3 linked regions of the Homo sapiens genome follow. The protein of the gene in region 1 binds, or shares a complex with, the protein of each later gene. Each region holds a gene or a part of one and is shown in the gene's direction. Other genes may lie near its edges.

What was found.
Region 2: IMMT (region 1) and CHCHD3 share a complex: the UniProt entries of both Homo sapiens proteins name them as parts of the mitochondrial contact site and cristae organizing system (MICOS) complex.
Region 3: IMMT (region 1) and CHCHD6 share a complex: the UniProt entries of both Homo sapiens proteins name them as parts of the mitochondrial contact site and cristae organizing system (MICOS) complex.

The regions. Positions count from the first base shown.
Region 1 is NC_000002.12:86,143,457-86,150,481, reverse strand, and holds the end of IMMT (MICOS complex subunit MIC60), read left to right. Parts: intron 1-2,648; coding exon 2,649-2,780; intron 2,781-4,284; coding exon 4,285-4,414; coding exon of another isoform or gene 4,415-4,446; exon of another isoform or gene 4,447-4,922; intron 4,923-4,994; coding exon of another isoform or gene 4,995-5,112; intron 5,113-5,600; coding exon 5,601-6,214; 3' UTR 6,215-6,546; downstream 6,547-7,025. UniProt on the Homo sapiens protein: Component of the MICOS complex, a large protein complex of the mitochondrial inner membrane that plays crucial roles in the maintenance of crista junctions, inner membrane architecture, and formation of contact sites to the outer membrane.
Region 2 is NC_000007.14:132,785,091-132,792,115, reverse strand, and holds part of CHCHD3 (MICOS complex subunit MIC19), read left to right. Parts: intron 1-6,455; coding exon 6,456-6,479; 3' UTR 6,480-7,025. UniProt on the Homo sapiens protein: Component of the MICOS complex, a large protein complex of the mitochondrial inner membrane that plays crucial roles in the maintenance of crista junctions, inner membrane architecture, and formation of contact sites to the outer membrane.
Region 3 is NC_000003.12:126,700,135-126,707,239, forward strand, and holds the start of CHCHD6 (MICOS complex subunit MIC25), read left to right. Parts: upstream 1-4,105; 5' UTR 4,106-4,178; coding exon 4,179-4,265; intron 4,266-7,105. UniProt on the Homo sapiens protein: Component of the MICOS complex, a large protein complex of the mitochondrial inner membrane that plays crucial roles in the maintenance of crista junctions, inner membrane architecture, and formation of contact sites to the outer membrane.

The DNA.
Region 1 (7,025 bases):
CTTGAAACTATTTCTTCCCTAGGCTCCCTGACACCATACTCTTCTGGCCTTTCTCTTACCTTGCTGGCCACTCCTTAACCTCCTTTTCTGCTCAGCCTCTCAAATGGTGGCATACCTGGCATTAGTTCTGAAACGTTTTCTCCATCTGAACTGTCTCTAAGTGTTCTTGTTGAGTCCCGTGACTTGGAAGTTTAAATACCATCTATACCTGATAAATGTCTATCTCCAGCTCTGACCTCTGCCTTGGCTTCAGGTTCCTATCCAGCAGCCTACCTGGTATCTCCAGCTTGATTTTCAGTAGTCATTTCATGCTTATCATGCTCCAAACAGATTTATTTATTCTCTCCAACCTGTCTTCCAGCCCCTCAACTTGTTTCTCTCTAAATAAACTGAGTTGAACAATCTGCTCAGCTATTCCAGCCCAAATCATGCTTTGTTGTTCCTCCATCAACTCATATTCAGTTGCCCCACAGATCCTACCAGTTTTGCATCCAACATAAATCCCAAATCTGTCCACTCCATTACTACCACCTTAGCCCAAGCTGTCATCTTAACAGCTTCCACTATTTTTTCTTTTTCTTTCTTTTTTTTTTTTTTTTTTTGAGACAGAGTCTGTCTTTGTGGCCCAGGGTAGAGTGCAGTAGTGCAATCTTGGCTCATTGCAACCTCTGCCTCCCAGGTTCAAGTGATTCTTGTGCCTCTCAGCCTCCTGAGTAGCTAGACTTACAGGTGCATGCCACCACATGTGGCTAATTTTTGTATTTTTAGTAGAGACGGGGTTTTGCCATGTTGGCCAGGCTGGTCTCGAACTCCTGACCTCAAGTGATCCACCTGCCTTGGCCTCCCACGGCGCCAGAATTACAGGCATGAGGTACCATGCCCGGCCTTCCCCAAGGAATTTAAACACCAAAGTGCTGGGATTACAGGTGTGAGCCACCATGCCCAGCCAATTTGCCCTTTCTTCATACCCTTCTTTCTGTGTCTATTTACGCAGGCAAATAAAACATAGTCGAATCAGACACTACACTGCTGGAAATCCTCCATGGACTACCCATTTCATTTAATATAATTCCAAATTCTTAACCAGTACCCAAAAGGCTTCTTGATCACTGCATGCCATGAGCCATTTCACTGCTCCAGGCACCCTGGTATTTTTTGTCTGTACCTTGACTATATCTTTTGTCTTGGGACCTTTATGTTTTCTCTGCCTAGTACATTGTTCTATCCTCTCTGTTTAAACCTTGAGCTCTAAGCTTAAGTTTTAAGCCTAGATGTCACTTTGTTAGCAAGACTGAGATTTCCTATCCCTTCAGTCCAAAGTAGAGTCTCTGTATTACTTTCTGTTATGTTGCCCTGTTTATTTTAAATGTAAGGTGGGGGAAAAGGAGGTTGAAGGGGTGTTGATGCTTCACAACAGGTCCTTGCCTGCTCAGTCATATGTAGAAATATGTATCACAATCTCAGATGTCTTTTTTGTTTACTGTCTGCTGCCTCCATTGAGATATACACTGTGAGAGCAAGAAGTTCGTCTGCCCTAAGCACCATTGGATCCGTACAGATAGTAGGCACTGCCTGGCACACAGGGCTAGTAGCACTTCATAAATACTTATGCACTGACTGAATGGATTCATTGATTTATTATATTGTTTCTGAGAAAAAATAAGTTCTGGATTTCAGGTAATCAGTGTTAAGTAATTTGTAAAGTGACCTATGGCTATTTGTTAGGCAAGGTATATTTTTTGGTTTTTTTTGGCCCATGTTGAATTTAAATTCATTTAAAAATAAGCAGTTTTCTTTGTTTAGAAGTCTATGTCAAGTCTATGTCAATAACTACCAGATACTTACTAATTTTCTTTTCTTTTTTCTTTTTGAGATGGAGTCTTGCTCTGTCGCCCAGGCTGGAGTGCAGCAGCGCAATCTTGGCTCACGGCAAGCTCTGCCTCCTCGGTTCACGCCATTCTCCTGCCTCAGCCTCCCGAGTAGCTGGGACTACAGGCACCCGCCACCACACCCGGCTAATTTTTTTTTTGTATTTTTAGTAGAGATGGGGTTTCACCATTTTAGTCAGGATAGTCTCAATCTCCTGACCTCATGAGCCACCTGCCTCAGCCTCCCAAAGTGCTGGGATTACAGGTGTGAGCCACCACGCCCGGCCAACTAATTTTCTTAATGATTCTTCAAAGTAGGCATTATTACTCACAAATGAGAAAGTGGAGATTTGAGAAGATAAATCATTTCCCCAAGGTCACACAGATGGTTGTAGTAAAGCTACGCTTGATTCCAAGTATATAGTTACTTTTTTTCATATCCTGGATTTAGTTATTTCTCAGAGGAGCATGTGATTCAGGAAATGGCAGTGTTTTATATGAGAGGCAGCCTGGTGATGTGGAAAAACCACAAGTTTGGGGGTGAGAGAGACCTTTGTTTGAAATCTGGTTTTTGCCACAGCTGTGTGATCTTGTTTGAATCACCTTCCAGGGTTTAGTTTTCCGTTTCACATGAGAAGTAGAAGTGTACACATGCCTGGCACATTAGAGGCGTTCAGGATATGGAAGCTGCTGTTGTCATGGTTGATAGTGGTCTTTCTGTTTTCCTAAAAGTATATGTGGAGAATTGAAAACTAATAACTACTATGTTTGGTTTCACAGATAGAAGAAGTCAGAGATGCCATGGAAAATGAAATGAGAACCCAGCTTCGCCGACAGGCAGCTGCCCACACTGATCACTTGCGAGATGTCCTTAGGGTACAAGAACAGGAATTGAAGTCTGAATTTGAGCAGGTGAGGACCTGGACTCCCTTCAGCCACACCCCTCTTCCTGACAGGATTAAGAGACTCTCCTTTCCTTTTAATGTACTCTGAGGATGTCGAAGATTTGGAAATCTCCTTGTATGTCTACAAAACTGCTTCTTTTTACATAATGGTGTACCTGTGTGTTCATGATCAGATGTGTTTTTAAAATATATATTCTAGTCATTTGGAATCTTCAGAGCTTTAAGGAGAGTTGGTAAAGGGGATTTCAGGAATGCAGACAGTAATATTTGACATGTGTATCTTCCTCCTATAGATGGCATGGTACTGCTTAGATTTTTATAACTGAGGTAATTTCCCAGAGAAGTTTTGAAATCCCAGTAAATTATCAGGATGCCTGTAATCATAGTTTCTATTCAAGAAATCATTTACAGTAATATTAACTTGTTACTTTGTCTTGCAAGAAGATATTGAGGTTTTCTAAGTAAAATCTTCCAGAGAATCGCGATGTATGTCAGTATGAAAAGGTATTTTAAATTCTATTTGGATATTTTTCTGAGAAAAATTAATGTATAAGCTCTTAAATACAAGATATTAGAATATAATTTAATCTAATTATTATGTTTAGGTTTGCAGTACAGATAATTTACTTTCTAAAGCTGACAATTTGTGGCTGAGCACAGTGGCTAACACCTATAATCCCAGCAATTTGGGAGGCTGAGGCGGGTGGATCGCTTGAGGACAAGAGTTCAAGACCAGCCTGCCCAACATGGCGAAACCCTGTCTCTATTAAAAATACAAAAATTACCTGGGCATGGTGGTGCATGCATGTAATCCCAGCCACTCCGGAGGCTGAGGCATGAGAATCGTTTGAATCTGGGAGGTGGAGGTTGCAGTGAGCTGAGGTTGTGCCACTGCACTCCAGCCTGGATGACAGAGCAAGATTCTGTCTCAAAAATAAAATACAGTTGGCAGTTTGTTTCTGACTTTAACAGCCTTCTCTCTTCTCTTGGTATGCCTCCTCTAATATTAGGTTCCATCAGTAAACCTGTAAAGAATTATATACATCGGCCGGGCACGGTGGCTCACGCCTGTAATCCCAGCACTTTGGGAGGCCGAGGTGGGCGGATCACGAGGTTAAGAGATCGAGACCATCCTGGCCAACATGGTGAAACCCATCTCTACTAAAAATACAATAATTGGCATGGTGATGCATGCCTGTAATCCCAGCTACTTGGGAGGCTGAGGCAGGAGAATCACTTGAATCTGGGAGGCGGAGGTTGCAGTGAGCCAAGATTGTGCCACTGCACTCCAACCTGGCAATAAAGCAAGATTCCATCTCAAAAAAAAAAAAAATATATTATATACATCAAATATGAGTCAGGACATTTTTGAAACTTTACACAAAATGTAGGAATTTCGTGACAACTCTAAGGCCCTCTTTGCTTCAGCAAGTAGTTGCTGGAAGATTACACAGTTACATGACATGCATTGAGTATCACTTTTTTCTGGAACTATTTCTGTTTTATTTCAGAACCTGTCTGAGAAACTCTCTGAACAAGAATTACAATTTCGTCGTCTCAGTCAAGAGCAAGTTGACAACTTTACTCTGGATATAAATACTGCCTATGCCAGACTCAGAGGAATCGAACAGGCTGTTCAGAGTAAGCATAAGCTATGTTTATCTTACAGATAATTTTCCTCAGCATAATTTATCAAAATAATTTTATAGGGAAAATGGGGTACATGTACTGACATCAGGACATAAAAATACTAATCACTCTACTTAATTGCAGTTTTTGCCATTAAAAGTAATGGCAAAATCTATATAACTAGAAATTTATACCTTGTATGACAAACACAAAATCACCATTTACAAGGCTATTTACCCAGTATCCTTTGGCTATGTCGCATGTGCCTGGGTGGTAAGGGCTAGGGGTCAGTGTGGTCCCATGCTTGCCTTCCACAGACTTGGTGGGTTATCTGGAGGTGGTGATTTGCCGAGTCCAACTACCAAATGGACAGTATTTATGCTGAGGCCTCCATGTGCCACATTGAAAGAGAAATGTCATGACAATGAGGGTATTAATAAAATGGGTTTTTTTAGGATGTTATGGAATCTTTTTTTGTCACATAACAATAAAAATAAATTCAATACTCATGGAATTTCAAGATCCAGTAGTCTGTTAAGTTCGTTTGAAGTCTCCCATTTCTTTTTTTTTTTTTTTTTTTTTTTTGAGACAGAGTCTTGCTCTGTCGCCCAGGGTAGAGTGCAGTGGTGTGATATCGACTCACTGCAGCCTCCGCCTCCTGGGTTCAAGCGATTCTCCTGCCTCAGACTCCTGAGTAGCTGGGAATACAGGTGCGTGCCACCACGCCTGGCTAGGTTTTGTATTTTTAGTAGACACAGGGTTTCACCATGTTGGCCAGGCTAGTCCTGAACTCCTGACCACAAGTGATCCACCCACCTCGGCCTCCCAAATTGCTGGGATTACAGGCATGAGCCATTGTGCCTGGCCCTGAAGTCTCCCATTTCTTTGCAGAAAATTTCTCATGGCCTTAGCGTTAAGTCTTAGCCTAATTTAAATAATATGTTTCTTTCTCAACTAGTAAAGGTAAAAATATGTGGATTAGATATCATGCAGATGTGAATGACTTCTGACTTTGATATGAAGAGGCCAGCTAGGAAAATACACCAGAAATAAGTGGTGGGGGTGGGGTTGTAAGAAAGTCTCTCTGGCCTCATCTTGCACATGTGTAGATGTAGCTTGTTGAATGTGCATCAGTTCTGTGGATGTATGTTGTCAGATGGAGAGAAAAATGTTTGGCTTTGCCTTTTTTTCTTTGTAGGCCATGCAGTTGCTGAAGAGGAAGCCAGAAAAGCCCACCAACTCTGGCTTTCAGTGGAGGCATTAAAGTACAGCATGAAGACCTCATCTGCAGAAACACCTACTATCCCGCTGGGTAGTGCAGTTGAGGCCATCAAAGCCAACTGTTCTGATAATGAATTCACCCAAGCTTTAACCGCAGCTATCCCTCCAGAGTCCCTGACCCGTGGGGTGTACAGTGAAGAGACCCTTAGAGCCCGTTTCTATGCTGTTCAAAAACTGGCCCGAAGGGTAGCAATGATTGATGAAACCAGAAATAGCTTGTACCAGTACTTCCTCTCCTACCTACAGTCCCTGCTCCTATTCCCACCTCAGCAACTGAAGCCGCCCCCAGAGCTCTGCCCTGAGGATATAAACACATTTAAATTACTGTCATATGCTTCCTATTGCATTGAGCATGGTGATCTGGAGCTAGCAGCAAAGTTTGTCAATCAGCTGAAGGGGGAATCCAGACGAGTGGCACAGGACTGGCTGAAGGAAGCCCGAATGACCCTAGAAACGAAACAGATAGTGGAAATCCTGACAGCATATGCCAGCGCCGTAGGAATAGGAACCACTCAGGTGCAGCCAGAGTGAGGTTTAGGAAGATTTTCATAAAGTCATATTTCATGTCAAAGGAAATCAGCAGTGATAGATGAAGGGTTCGCAGCGAGAGTCCCGGACTTGTCTAGAAATGAGCAGGTTTACAAGTACTGTTCTAAATGTTAACACCTGTTGCATTTATATTCTTTCCATTTGCTATCATGTCAGTGAACGCCAGGAGTGCTTTCTTTGCAACTTGTGTAACATTTTCTGTTTTTTCAGGTTTTACTGATGAGGCTTGTGAGGCCAATCAAAATAATGTTTGTGATCTCTACTACTGTTGATTTTGCCCTCGGAGCAAACTGAATAAAGCAACAAGATGAAAACTGAGTATCTTATCCCTTTTCAAAAAGTACAGTTCTGGCCAGGTGCAGTAGCTCACGCCTGTAATCCCAGCACTTTGGGAGGCTGAGGCGGGTGGATCACCTGAGGTTGGGAGTTCGAGACCAGCCTGACCAACATGGAGAAACCCATCTCTACTAAAAATACAAAATTAAGCTGGGCGTGGTGGCGAATGCCTGTAATCCCAGCTACTCGGGAGGCTGAGGCAGGAGAATCGCTTGAACCTGGGAGGTGGAGGTTGCAGTGAGTCAGGATCGCACCATCGCACTCCAGCCTGGGCAACAAGAGCAAAACTCCGTCTCAAAAAAAAAAAATTCTAGTTTGTTGTATGTACAGAAAATATCCTTGAGAAACAACAACAGCAGAAGTAGGAACTTCTAGCTCACAGTTTCCAGGCTGTGAATTGCGTCACCAGAAGTCCACAGCCTGCTTTTTGCCTTTGAAGGTTTTGGTGAATTGATTC
Region 2 (7,025 bases), on another chromosome or scaffold:
CAGGAGATGCCCAAGGGACAGAGGTCAGTGTGGGACCTGCAGTTAGATGATGAGTCTGTCAGGGGTCCCCCAAACCATAGCAGAAGTTTCAGTCAGTAAGCAGGCAGTGGGACAGTAGCCACGCAAACAGTTAGTTCAGCTCACAATAAGGACGTCTTGTAAATGAGACAGCCCCACCTCAGACCTACATGCTTCCTGCTGATCTCTTTGGAGAGATCAGAAAGGAACCTGGCCACAGTGAGGAACTTGGGGTCAGGACCCAGTAAATGAGGCTAGATCCTAATGTGACAGCTCTCCAACTTAAGGCTAGTGCACCCCGTTGTCTCGTTTCTAAAATATCATTGACATCTCCAGTATTTGGTTGGCTTCCTAAGTCAAAGCCTCAAGATCAGTGCATATGGAGGAATTTGCCCTGGCACAATTTCTGTCCGCCTTCTGAAGGACAATTTCATCTCCCCGGTGAACTGTATTTATATTAGACCAGGATTCTGCTCCTAAGTCTGTGACATATTTTGAGTATGAAGGGGTCCTGAAAACATAGTAGTAGCTTTTGCTTAAAAATCAAGGTTCTTGAAAGAAAAACCTATTGCCAGAGCAAGCTGTATGTTATCATTGTTTTCAGATGAACTCTACATTAGATGCAAATGATTTAATAGACTTATAGGCTGTTGGAGCTAAAAGGACCCTAGAGATCATATAACCCAACCTCATTTTTTTCATGTGCAAAATTAGCTTCCAGAGAATTTAAATGATCTGTAGAAGGGCAGAACCCAGACCAAACAGCCCACTCTTAAATTCAAAACCAGGGTATTTTTCCTGTCGTGTCAGATCTCAGATGTGGGTGAGCATCAGAATCCCCTGAGGGGTTTGCTTAAAATGTACCCACCCAATCCCCATCCCTGGAGATTCTGATTCAGAAGGTCTGGGGTGAGGCCTGGGCATCTGAACTTTGACCAAATTTCCCAGGAGACTCTGTACCCAAAGTTTGAAAACCATTGCTCTTAGAGCCCATTGGCCTGAATTGCATTAAAGGTCTTTGACCTTTCAGAGGTCCTGCCAAGTCCTTGTTTTCCATCTTTTGGGAGATGGGGAGCTATCACTCCCTATAGGTCAAAGCTACCTGGCAGAGGTCTCATCAGACCAACCCTAGGAATGAATCTTTAGCCTTAAGAACAAATTGGAAGATGATGTGGGAATCAGATGGAAGCCTTGAAAAGAGATCCCCTTCCCCTCTTCTCTTGCTCCCATTGAAACAGTAGGTGACCCCAGTCCCCTGGCTAGCTCACAGCTGTGACCAGACCCTCCCTTGGTTCTACTGCTCCCAGTCACCCTGCTTCTCTCCCCGACCCACATCAGGGTCCCCCCGATGTACACGGTGGCCACTTTCAGAGAGCACGAAGATAATCAAGAAGGTTAACTTTCTGGGAAGCCCCCCAGGAGCATGTTTTTATTGTGTTCGAAAGCTGCTTTATCATTATCGCTTGATGACATTTATTAATTGCCCAGCTGGGATGCTGGTCACAGGGTGACTGACACGTGGGTATTTCATAATAGATTTCCCATTTTTTTGGTAGGGCAGCCCTTTGAATTTAGAGTCAGATCAAAGCAAACAAAATTCCAAACTTTAAATTTCCTATCCCAACCTCTTCCATCATAGGAATCCTTTTCTAAACCACTTTCTGAGAGTAATCGTTGCTTCGTGACATTTTCTCTTTTTTTAAATCTGAGTTTAATAGAAGAAATACTACCATGGTAATAGATTTTCATTTTTCTTAATAGGTATTTCTTTTCCCATGGTCATCCTTCAATTAGAACTGCAGTATGTTAGTGTTTTGTCTGTTATTGCAGCCAGCTGTATAAACAGTTAATTACTTGTAACTTAATTTGAATATTATACAGAGCATTTGTCATAGAAGATATAAAACAAGATCCAGGCAGAAAAAAGTTAACTTCTATTTCCTCCAAAGCAGGAGGAACAAAGAACAAACAGCTCTTGCTGCAGGGGAATAGACACATATTGAAAACAAAATAAGTGATCTAATCAGATTTCCAGGTAGTGAAGAACAGTACTTGGTGCACAGGCAAAACTCGCTTTGTGCTTCCCATAAATTCAATTTATAGATGACTTTTCCTTCCTGTCTTATGCACAGTCTTCTCATTCTGGCTTTTTCCTCATCGAAGCTCCAGTGTCTCCCACTCCCCACTTTTCCTGACCCTCCTTAGTAAAACTCGTGTCTTAAGACCAGGTCTGTGCCAGGACACATCTCCAGTTTCATTTTTCCTTGGTTAGGTAGACCTTCCTGCTTCTCTACCCAGCTTTATGAGGCCTGAAGTCTTGGTGAGGCGCTGGGTAAGTTCATCCAGAGACAAGCACCCTGAGTGGTATCTTAAAAAACAAACCGCTTTTCTTCTCTTCATGATGATTGGTTAGCAACCCAGGGTTGCCATCATTTCTCTTAAATTATCAACACAACCAGTAGCTGGCATGCTGCTATGATAGTCAACCCCTCCAAGAAAGCTGTGATTCAAAAATCAGTTGATGAGATTACTGCTTAACAGAAATATTTGAGGCAAGCGGTTAGGATGGTTAGTAAGGTTTTAATAAGCGGAAATGACACGCAATCTCAGGTCTCCAGGGGCGCTGTTCTTATTTGTGAGCTGCCGGTTGTTCTTCAGTGGCTGGAATGAGAAAAAGACTTGGGAAAAGAGCAGTGTTCATGCCTGAACCACTCTCTTCTTTTGGTGATTTACCCAGCTGTTTATAAAAGGAGTTTCTGCAGGCCCAGATACGTGAATGATGAGCAAAAGCAAGGAATTTCTTTCTCCACATTAAGATTAAGTGTTAGCAGTTCCTTAAATGAAGGAAGCAATTTTTTATAACTTGCAAAGCTTCTCCCTCATTCTTTAGGGAATTTCCTATGTTAATTTATGCAGTGTTAAATTTATGCAGCGTTGAAATTCAGCCCAACAGCAGTACTTACGGAACCAATACAGAGACAGTAGAACCTATAAGGTGAAAGCTGAATAACACAGACCCCACCAGACTACGGATCCCTCCAGCCAAAAGCCCTGAGTTCTGAGTTGGAGCAGGTTTTGTCGCATAGCTGGAATATAATAATAACCCAAAATGTTTGACAGATGAATTCATCTTTTTTAAAAATCCAGCCTGCCATTGTGTTTGTTAATTTCCCTGATAGAATTGAGATGGTTTTGTACCACCCCTGCCACCCTTTGGTAGCAAGTGAGTGCAGTTTGACAAAATGTTTATAGATCAGCCCTGGTGCTTTTCTGTGGTGGTCCCACATGTCTTCAAGGAGTCACCACAAATCAGCTGAACCACTGTGCTATCTTGGAGGATTAGAATTTTAATACATGTAACGGTATTTTGTGAATGTGGCTAAAGGGGTTATTAAAATGTTACTTCTTTTAGTGTCTTTATGTGAGACTGGCCTGCTCATCCTCAGACCAGCCAGGCCCCATCTTGTCTCTTTCTGAAAGAGAGCCTAACATTCTTAGCATGATATGATTTGGCTGAAAAATTACCCATCTATATTTGGTTGAGGTTGCAGAGAGAATAGTAAAAACAATCTCTAGACTCGTGAAAACACTCTTTAACTGTTGCTTTCCTTAAGTTGTGGCAGCTGCAGGTTATTTTGCAATATTTGAAAGGAGGTACATTGTCATGTGGTTATCCTTGTAACCCTAAGCCCAAAATTGTAGAGAGGGGTACAGCTATGTAATCTTGACCAGGCAGATGACAACTCAAAGCTCCCATCAGTGTGTTGAAGAAAGCAGTGAATCTATAACCCCCCCAAATGCAAATGGCTAAGTGGCATCATTTATAAAGAGATCACTTTCTCTAGTAACTGCATTCCCTTAGATAGGCTCAGTATAGATCTGCTTGATACTGGCTTCCATTTTGTATTTAATAAAGCATGATGTAGTGAGGTTGTCTATATATCTGGAATTTATAGAACTTATCATCTATGTGATTGGAGAGGCTCACACAGATCAATTCATAAGCAGGTGAGCATAGCTGAGATGCTGTGACGCTGTGACACTGCCAGGTGGTGTCTCTTACATGGTGGGTGCTCAGCGTGTTATTTTCCCAGCGAACATGGGGCTGGTGCCTCACATTCCAGTATGAGTTCTTACAGGACAACTCTCTGCTGAGCAATCTTCCACTGCACCTACTTTGTTTTTCCTGTTTTCCCTAAATGCATCTAGCTTTTCTAATTTACCTCCTGTATGACAGAATCATTGTTTTTCTCACCACTGTGTGTGTTATGTCTAAGTTTGTCTGCCTTTATATCTGTTCTTTTGTGCCCTATGACATAGACTTCTTAGAAACCTATAATGATGAACACTTTAGGATAATCTATCCACCCTTTGCTCCTATGACCCAATACACCATCTTGTTTGACTTCTACTCTTTCTGTTCTGTCCCCTTAATTTCAATCATTTTTAAATTTTTGACCCTAAATTGTTGTGTCTAGAGACCTTTGACCTCAGAGGGCCTACAGCGTCCTTCTAGACATTTCCATTTTGGATGTCTCACCCAAAATTGCCTCACAAACCCAAAATTTAAGTCATCCTCCTCCTTCCCAGGCTCCCACTGACTTCCCTGTTTCTCTTGGTGGCCCCATCACTGTCTTTGTCACCAAGGATCCTCCCATACCTTGGGTGTCACCATCTCCCTTTTTCTTCCCATGTAGCTCTAGTTCTTGTTTCCACCTTTGTCTGGTTTCTAATCTGCCTCCTCCTTGGGCTTCCTGCCTGCAGACTCCCCTCTGTTGGATCCATCATGCTGAGGATGTCAGGTTAACATTCCTAAATGCCATTCTCCTATGTAAAAGCATTCCTCCATGTTTTCTGTGGCTAGCAGGACATGTCTCAGCCTGGCGTCCGTCCTGGGCCCTCTTTCCACCCTTTCTCTTGGTCAGTCCTGAGCATGTACCCTTTCTTCCAGCTAGGCCTCTCCCCTCAGGATTCTGTGTGTGCTAGGCTTCTTCCCCTGCTGAATCCTGGCCACCGCTTTCTCCCCTCACTCCTCCCAGTCCCACCCCAGTCCTCCACCTGGATTCTCTCCATGGTGGAAGGTCCTTGGAGAAGCCTTCCCTGCTCGCTCCAGCTACAGGGTTGCCCTCTGCACCAGGCAGAACCATTCCTCTTGTGAACTGTGACCATCTCTGGAAGGGGACACAGAAACTGGGAAACGGAAGGAAAAAATTACTTTCTACCAGATACTATTTGGTTCCTGTTAAATGTTATGCTGTTTACACAATAAATTTTAGCATGTATTTAGCAAATAAATAAAAATTAGCAAATTATTACCTTTTATTATTCCTGAATTTTCCACAGGTGTATGTATTAGTTTCCCCAATGCACTAAACTGAGTGCAGTGGTACCTGGTAGGAGCTCAATGAAGAGATGGCTGGAAGGGTGCGGGTTGGCGGGAGGCAGGTGGGAATGGATAAACTAGAGGCAACCTCGGCCTCACCTTGCCTCTCTGAGTGGTTGCAAAACTAGAGGGGAAAGTATCACTTTTTTCTTCTTAAAGACCTCTAAAAATGAAGGCAGTATACCCCCATTTCAGCTGGTTATAGAGTTCTCATCTGATAGTTAAGAATTCTTCCTATCTACATCCTCATCTCCCAAATAAATAACTAAATAGAATGTAGGGACCATTTCTGCAATCTGGGAATAGGTACCAATCTGTGTAGCTCTGTCCAGCCTCATGAGCACATGAACATCTGCGTTCTCCCCCTCTGGGAAGGAATCTTGTGTTTCTCTAATGAAGAGATTCCCTCTCAGAGCCTTTGGAGTTGGGGTTTGATCCCTGCACTGCCTTGGCCATAGCTTTCCCCCGGTCACTGCATCCATCAGCCATGCTCCCAACATTTCCAAATGCCCCTACCAGGAGCACTTTTGCTTTCTATTTGAGACAGCAAAGACTGTTGCCCAAGCTGGAGTACAGTGGCATGATCATGGCTCACTGCACCCTCTGCCTCCCAGGCTCAAGGGATCCTCCCACCTCAGCGTCTCGAGTAACTGAGACTACAGGCACACACCACCATGCCCAGCTAATGTTTTTGTTTTTGGTAGAGATTGGGTTTCATTGTGTTGCCCAGGCTGATTTCAAGCTTCTGGGCTCAAGTGATCTGCCCACTTTGGCCTCCCAAAGTGCTAGGATTACAGGCGTGAGCTACTGCGCCCGGCCTTGTTGGGGTTTTCAACCCATGTGGTGGTGAGAGGGGTCATTTAAAGATCATATTGATAAAGCAATGGTGTTGATTAAAGGAGCAATATTTTGAGAACAGGAAGCATATGCCTTGTTTTCTGTGTTTTTAAAATTAGATATTTGAAAAGCAACACAAATCATACTAAATAGTTAGTGCCATTTATTTTTTGTCCTCTCCCGGTGGTAAAACTTACTCTTTCTGTTTTTCTTGCAGAGCATGCTTGAGAAGGGAGGATAAAAACTTTCAGAATGAGCAAAACACCATCAACGTTAATTCCAGAGATGGAACATTTTTTTTCCTAGTGAGAAAACAACCCATTTGAAGAGAAGACCACTAATGAGAAGACCACTAAAGAGAGACATCAAGAATGGATTCAGCAGAATCATTTCACGTTTTGAACAGCAGCAGTTTGAAGGGCCAAAGCCTTGATCAGGGATCAGTCATTAAAGGACACTCTTGAGTATTAGTAAACCCTCTTATGATGATTAAAAGAGAAGGGCAGCCCTCTCCACCTTTTGGTACTTTCTATTCAACTTGCACTGACCATAAAATGTTTCTCTTCTGAACAAGCCCCATCATTTGGTGAACCTCCACCCTAACAAAGTAGGATGGGGTTGGGGGCTAAATTAATTGGAGTGGGGCGAGGAGAGAGCCAGAAAACATAGATCCGAGGGCAGCAGTGCTGGGTGGAGAGAGCCAGAAAACAGATCTGGAGGCAGCAGTGCTGGATGGAATTGTCTAGGCTGTGGCATGTTGGTTTTGTCTTTCTTTTCTCCTTTGATT
Region 3 (7,105 bases), on another chromosome or scaffold:
TTGTCTTTCTGTGCCTGGCTTATTTCACTTAGCAAAATGTCCTCCAGGTTCGTCCATGTTGTCACAAATGGCAGGATTTCCTTTTTTATGGCTGGATAAAACACGCGTGTGTGTGTGTGTGTGTATGTATATATATGTGTGTGTAAAACATTTTATCTGCTCATCTGTTGATGGACACAGGTTGTTTCCATATTTTGGGTATTTTGAATAATACTACAATGGACATGGGGGAGCAGATATATTTTCAAGATTTCATTTCCTTTAGATATATACTGTTAAAGGAAAAACTTGAGACTGATTAAAGAGTTTGAGAAAAGGACAAGTTACAAATCAGGGAGCCCCCCAAATCAGAATAGCTTCAAAGAGACTTCAGTGCTGCCAGTGGGGTTGGAGAGGATTTAGGGACAGGAAAAGGAAAATGACATAAATAAAATGGAAGTGAAATACAGAAATAGCCAGATTGGTTACAGCTGGGTTACAGACTTATTTGAACACCGAACAGTTGGCCACCTGTGAGTAGTATGTCTTCTGATTGGCTGAGACTTGGCTACTTGTTATAAGAGTAGGTTACAGTCTGTTTACACATCCAGTTAGATTACAGTTCACTATGTATGGATCAACCTTTAGGCTGAACTTACAAGGAAGCAGCTTTAGGCTAAAGTTAACTATACAGAAATAGGATTATTAGATTGTATTGACTTTTGGGGGAGTTGCCATACTCTCTCCCATAATGGCTCTACAAATTTATATTCCCACCAGCAGTGTGCAGGGTTCTCTTTTCTCTACATCCTCACCAACACTTCTCTTGTCTTTATTACAATACTGATTCTCACAGGTGTAAGGTGATATCTCACCATGGTTTTAATTTGCATTTCTCTGATGATTAGTGGTGTTGAGCGCTCTTCATATGCCTGTTAGCTATTCACATGTCTTCTTCAGAAAAATGTCTATTCAAGTCCTTTGCCCATTTTTAAATTGGGTATTTATTTTTGCTATTGAGTTGTGTGAGTTCCTTATAGAGTATATTTGGATATTAAGCACTTATCAGATATATGGTGCCCAAATATTTTCTCCCAGTCTGTAGGTTGCCTTTTCAGTTTGCTGCTTGTTTCCTCTTATGTGGAGAAGCTTTTTTAGTTTGATGTCATACCATTCGTTTATTTTTACTTTTGTTGTTTGTGCTTTTGGTGTTATAGCCAAAAAAATTATCATCAAGACCAATGATAAGAAGCTTTCCACCTATGTTTTCTTCTAGGAGTTTTGGGGTTTCAGATCTCACATTTAAGTCTTCAATTCATTTTGAATGGATTTTTTATGTGGTGTAATACAAGGGTCCAATTTCCTTCTTTTGAATGTGGATATCCCGTATTTCCAGCTCCAATTATTGAAGAGACTTTCCTTTCTCCATAGTGTGTATATTCTCGGCACCATTATCAAACATTAGTAGACCATATATGCATGGGCTCTCTATTTTTCTGCATTGATCTATGTATCTATTTTTATGCCAGTACCATACTCTTTTGATTACTACAGCTTTGTAATATAGTTTGAAATCAGGGAGTATGATGCCTTCAGCTTTCTGCTTCTTTCTCAAGATTGCTTTGATGATTTGGGGTCTTTTGTGGTTCCATATGAAATGTTAGAATTGTTTTTTCTATTTATGTGAAAAATGTCATTAGAATTTTGATAATGATGACATTGAATGTGTAGATTACTTTGGGTAGTAAAGCCATTTTAACAATATTAATTCTTCTGATCTATAAACACAGGCTATCTTTCTACTTATTTATGTCTCCTATAGTATCTTTCAACAGTGTCTTATAATTTTTAGTGTGCAATTTTTTGTGTGCATCTTTCTTTCACCTCCTTGGTTAAATTTATTCATATTTTATTCTTTTTGGTGTTATTGTAAGTGGGATCATTTTCTTAATTTCTTTTTGAATAGTTTGTTGTCAGAAATCAGTAATAGGAAGAACTTTGGAAAATTCACACATGTGCGGAAATTAAACAACACATTCCTGAACAGCCAATGAGCCAAAGAATAAATCAAAAGGGGAATAAACAAGTATCTTGAGACAAATGAAAATGGAAACACAAGGTACCACAACTTATAGGATGCAATAGAAACATTTTTAAGAGGGAAGTTTATAGCGAAAAATACCTACATTAAGAAAAAAGAAAGACATCAAACAACCTAATTTTATATCTCAAGGAACTAGAAGAGGAACAAACTAAGCCCCAAAGTCAGCAGACTGAAGGAAATAAAAAAGATGAGAGCAGAAATAGAAACTAGAAAAACAACAGAAAAGATCAACAGTAAAGATCAACAAAATTAACAAACCTTAGCTAGACTAACCAAGAAAAAAGGTAATTCACATAAACAAAAGTATAAATGAAAGAGGAGACATTACAACTGATATCACAGAAATACAAAAGATCATAATCAACTACTATGAACAATTATACACCAAGAAACTGGATAATTTAGGAGAAATGGACGAATTCCCAGAAACATACCATCTATCCAAACTGAGTCTTGAAGAAACAGAAAATCTGAACAGACCAATAACGAGTAAGGAGATTGAATTAGTAATCATAAACCTCCAAGGAAAAGAGACAAAGGAAAGCCCAGGACCAGGTCTGACCACATCTTTACTCAGTTTTCCCCGCGGCCCCCGGTCCCCACCCCTCTTAGCCTGTCTCCCTAACTTCCTTTCTCCTGAGGTGCTCCCCCAGGAAACTCCTTGCACCAGAATCCCCTACGCAGGCTCTGCTTATAGGGAAGAAATGGACGACAGAGGTGATGGAGTGGGGTGCGCCAATGAAGTATTTTGAATGAAACTAGCAGACACCTTTGTTCCTAAAGATTCCATCGTCACACCAGCTCTGGGATGTTTACTAGCTTCTTCACCCTGAGCTATTCTCAATCTCAGAGCCTTACTGCTCTCTCTCAATCATTCTCTCCTCCTCACCCCTTTCTTTCCAGGTTGCCAATAGGAGCTCCAAATATTTTCTGGCTATTTCATGTAGCCATCTAGTTTTCCTCAGCTCGGCTTCAGGCGCACTTTTGCAAATCAAAGCCATTCAGCAACTCAGAGGAACAAAAAGGGGCTTATTTGAAGGTAGCAGTGTCTATGACTGGCAACCGTCTGTGTGCTCCCTTACACATAGGGTCCTGTGTAAGAAGCCTACACACAATGCCTGGCACACTGCACTCCACACATGGTATGTACACTCCTTGGGCAATGCCTCCTAACGGCTTAGGACCATTCCCTGTCCTCCCGGGGCGTTTAGAATAAAACCCACACTCAGACCCTGCCTCACAAGACCCGACATGATTTGGGTCCTCACCACTCCTCTGCCCTCTTCTCACTTTCCAGCCATGGGATGACCCCTCTTTCTCTTTTCCTGCCTGAGACTCCCAGGAAACCTCTTCCCCTACCTTTTTCTACATAAATCCTACTCTCCCGCCGGCTCAGTTCAAAGCTTCTTCCTCAGAGGTTGCTCTGGCCACTGAAATTAAAAGAGGCCTCCTTCTGTTCATTTTACTAGTGGCATCGCCATGCAGTTTTCCGTGTATTACAGTCAGTTTCCTTGCGTGCGTGTTTGGCTTTTCACTTGTTTTCCCCTTGCACTGTAAACCTCTCAAGGGCAGGACACTCGCTGTCTTGAGGGGCGCTGTAATGCCAGGGCCAGGTCCCTGCTCGTCTGGCGCTCAGCCCGTGCTGCTCTACACGTGTTTGCTGAATGAATGGAGCAGTGAACCCTCAGAAATTCGCCTCCAGATGAGCGCCTTGGCCGTCTCGGCGTCTCCTGGCCTCAGAACATCACCCTTGGCTCTCCCTCAAGGGGGAGCTCCCAAAGCGAGAACGTGACCCTGTCCTGCACCCAGCCCTCCACTCCAGGGCCTCCGCCGGTACACATCTTCGGCCTCAGCCTAACGCACTCTAGCAGGCACAGACCGCCACGCCCCCACCCCTCCAGACGGAAGGACTGCAATCCCCACAAGGCACCGCGACTCAGCGCCACCCGATTGGTGAAGCCTCTGGCGTCGGCCAATAGGACGTGGCTTTGTTGGCGTGTGCCGCGGCCGCGCGAGTCCTGGAAAGCGTTGTTGGCCCGGTTGCTCTGGAGCCGGGTCTCGGGTCTGGTGGCTGCCGGCCCTGCGGCATCTCGCCATGGGGAGCACGGAGAGCAGCGAGGGCCGCAGGGTGTCCTTCGGAGTGGACGAGGAGGAGCGGGTCCGGGTGCTGCAGGGTGTCCGGGTGAGCGGCGCCGCCTGGGCCGGGGCGGGCGTGGAGGCCGCGGGCGCGGGGGGGAGGTGCGGGGCGGAGCGCAGGGCCGGGGCTCTTTCCACGCGTGAGGGGCGTGGGGCTTGGGAGACTCCGGGGGCTCAGGCCAGGAAGAGGCTGAGCCGAGACGCGAGCCCGAGGCTGGCAGCCTTGGAGCTTCGCGACATGGGCTTCAGGGAAGGAGGAGTGAAGAACTGTACAGGTGCGAGGCCCCTGGGACACGAGGGACGCCCTGGCCACGTCCTGGCTCCGGTCGGCTTAGTTTTTACGTTTCTTGAATTTGCGCCCGGCCTCCCAGCCCGTGGCCCCTCAGGTGCGCGCATCTCGTTCTGGGTACGCGGTGTCTCCCACCTGGGCTTTGCCTGGGGACTCAGCTCTTCCCCGCCGGCCTGTTCTCCACAGCACATCTGCGGGGCGCAGGAAGAACCATAGCTCAGATCTGATCCCCTTCCTTGCCTGAAACCCTCCAGTGGGTTCCTAGCGCGCTTGGATGATGCCTTCCCTGGTTCCAAAGCTGGCCGCTGCCCGTCGACCTCTGGGGACTGCATCCCTCTGGGACTGCATCTCGTGCCATTTCCCTCGCGTGGCACCCGCACCTCGTCCCCAGCCTCAGGACCGCCGTGTTTTCCTGGAGGGTGCCGCTGGCTCAGCTCAGGGTCTGTGCGCCGGCTGTTCTCTCTCCTTCAGCTCTCCTTAAATCCCGCTGTTTCTTGTAATTCTTGTTGTAATTCAGATATCACCAGAGAATCCTTCCCTGACCACCCAATCTGAAGTAACCTCCCACCCCGCGTCCAACATTTATTATTTTCATAGCACTCATCACAGTGATCGCTTCTGTTGATAATTGTTTACTTGTTTATTGCGTTTACTGCTAGAGTGTAAGCTTTTTGAGGCTAAGGTTCCTGTCTGATTGAAGACTGTCCCCAGAACCCAGAAGAATAAAAGCAGCTCTTATTGCAGTGTAGGGGCCATGCGTTGGACTAAACCCTTTATAAGTTAACTGATTTAATTTTCAACAGCCCTATTTAGCCCATTATTGTAGATTAAGGAGAAGTGAGGCACTGAGAGGTGAACGAACTGATCCAAGATCATGTAAATAGTAAGTGGGAGAGCTGGGATTGAAACAAGCCAATTCCAGGGCATGTTGCTGTGCTCGGCCTCTTCCTCCACCTGTGTCTACACCTGCAGGTGCTTTGTAAGTAACTGTGGAGAGATGAATGAACCCAGTAAAAGGGACTAGGATTAAATGAAACGCACAGAGCTGGGTGTAGATGAATTAGTTAATTAAGGAGGAATTAGGGAGGTGGCTTAGAAAGACAGACTTCAGGAGTTCTGGCAGGTGCTCATTAGCTGTGTGACCTTGGGTAAAAAACTCTTTTGAGCCTCAATGGCCACATTAAAAAAAAAATTGGGTGTGTATGTATCCTAGGTACTGCCTAGGATAAGATGATGTCTGTGAAAGTGTTAAGGAAACGCACAGAGAGAGTGCTTTGTGGAGGCCTCTCTTCTTAGCCTAGCAGAGTACTTGGCACATTTGGTGCTTGCTAGGCGTTGTATAGTTTTGTGGACCTCACTCGTGGCAAGGATTAAATGGGGGAGGAGATGGCTTGTGTTGGAAGGCCGAGAGGGAGGAACCTGAATTGGAATTTAGAAAGATAAGCTTGGCTCTGTTTGGGTGCTCTCACCCTTGTGATTTGGTCTCCTGTTTTGGGGAATGTTGGAAAGTTAAGTTGGAGTCCTCAGAGGTTCAGGGGAGTGCCTTTGGGGGTGCCTTCTTTCAAGTTGATTGGAAACCTCATGTTTTTTGAGTATTATATAAGACAGGTACATTTCATTTCTAGTTCTCTTAAATACTTCTGCAACATATAAATTCTCTGTATTTAAAGATGGAGAATTGAGCTTAAAGGAGTTAAGGAATTTGCCCAAGGTGTTAACCTGAGTAACTTCTGGGACTTTAATTAAGATCTTTTCGGTGCAAAAAGCAACTTTTTCTCACTTCTGCAATTCCCCCCCATGATGTATGCAAGGCAGCCTGAAAATTTTGTGACAATACCCATACCTGTCCTGACAGGGATGATAGTGCCCCACTTAGTTTTAAAACTGGAAGGAACTTTGGTGACTGACTGCTTTCTTTTCCAGCTGGGCAAACTAATCAGAGAGGATAAATGACTTGTCCAGAGGTGCACAGTAAGGTGCACAGCCCCACGTTATGAGAGCCACGTCCTTCCTTCTGCTTGTGTTTGAAAGAGGAAAACTGAAGAAAGGAGGTGATGGTATGAAGAAAGGATGTTTTGGTGTAGAGGCTTTTTCTGTTAGCAGAGTTACTTGAGGGTTGAGGAATTCACCTTGTCTTTAGGCAAGTGAGTGAAAAAGATTGCCAGATCAACAAAACAGTTGCCAAAGGGAACAAATCAGTTCATTTAATGAGAAGCAGATGCCAAAGAAGATCTGCCCCAGCTTCTTTAGAGCAAGTTGAATATTCTTAATGACCATTTGTATTTAATTCCTGAGGCCTGGTCTTAGAAAGTGTTCTCGTCCCTGTAAGATTAAGTGTTAGTGGCTGGTAGTGGTGGCTCATGCCTGTAATTTCAGCACTTTGGGAGGCCGAAGTGGGCAGATCACCTGAGGTCAGGAGTTAAAGACCAGTCTGGCCAACATGGTGAAACCCTGCCTCTACCAAAAATACAAAAGTTAGCTGGGCATGGTGGCACACACCTGTACACCCAGCTACTTGGGAGGCTGAGGTAGGAGAATCCTTGAACCCAGGAGGGGGAGGTTGCAGTGAGCCGAGATTATGCCAGTGTCCTCCAGCC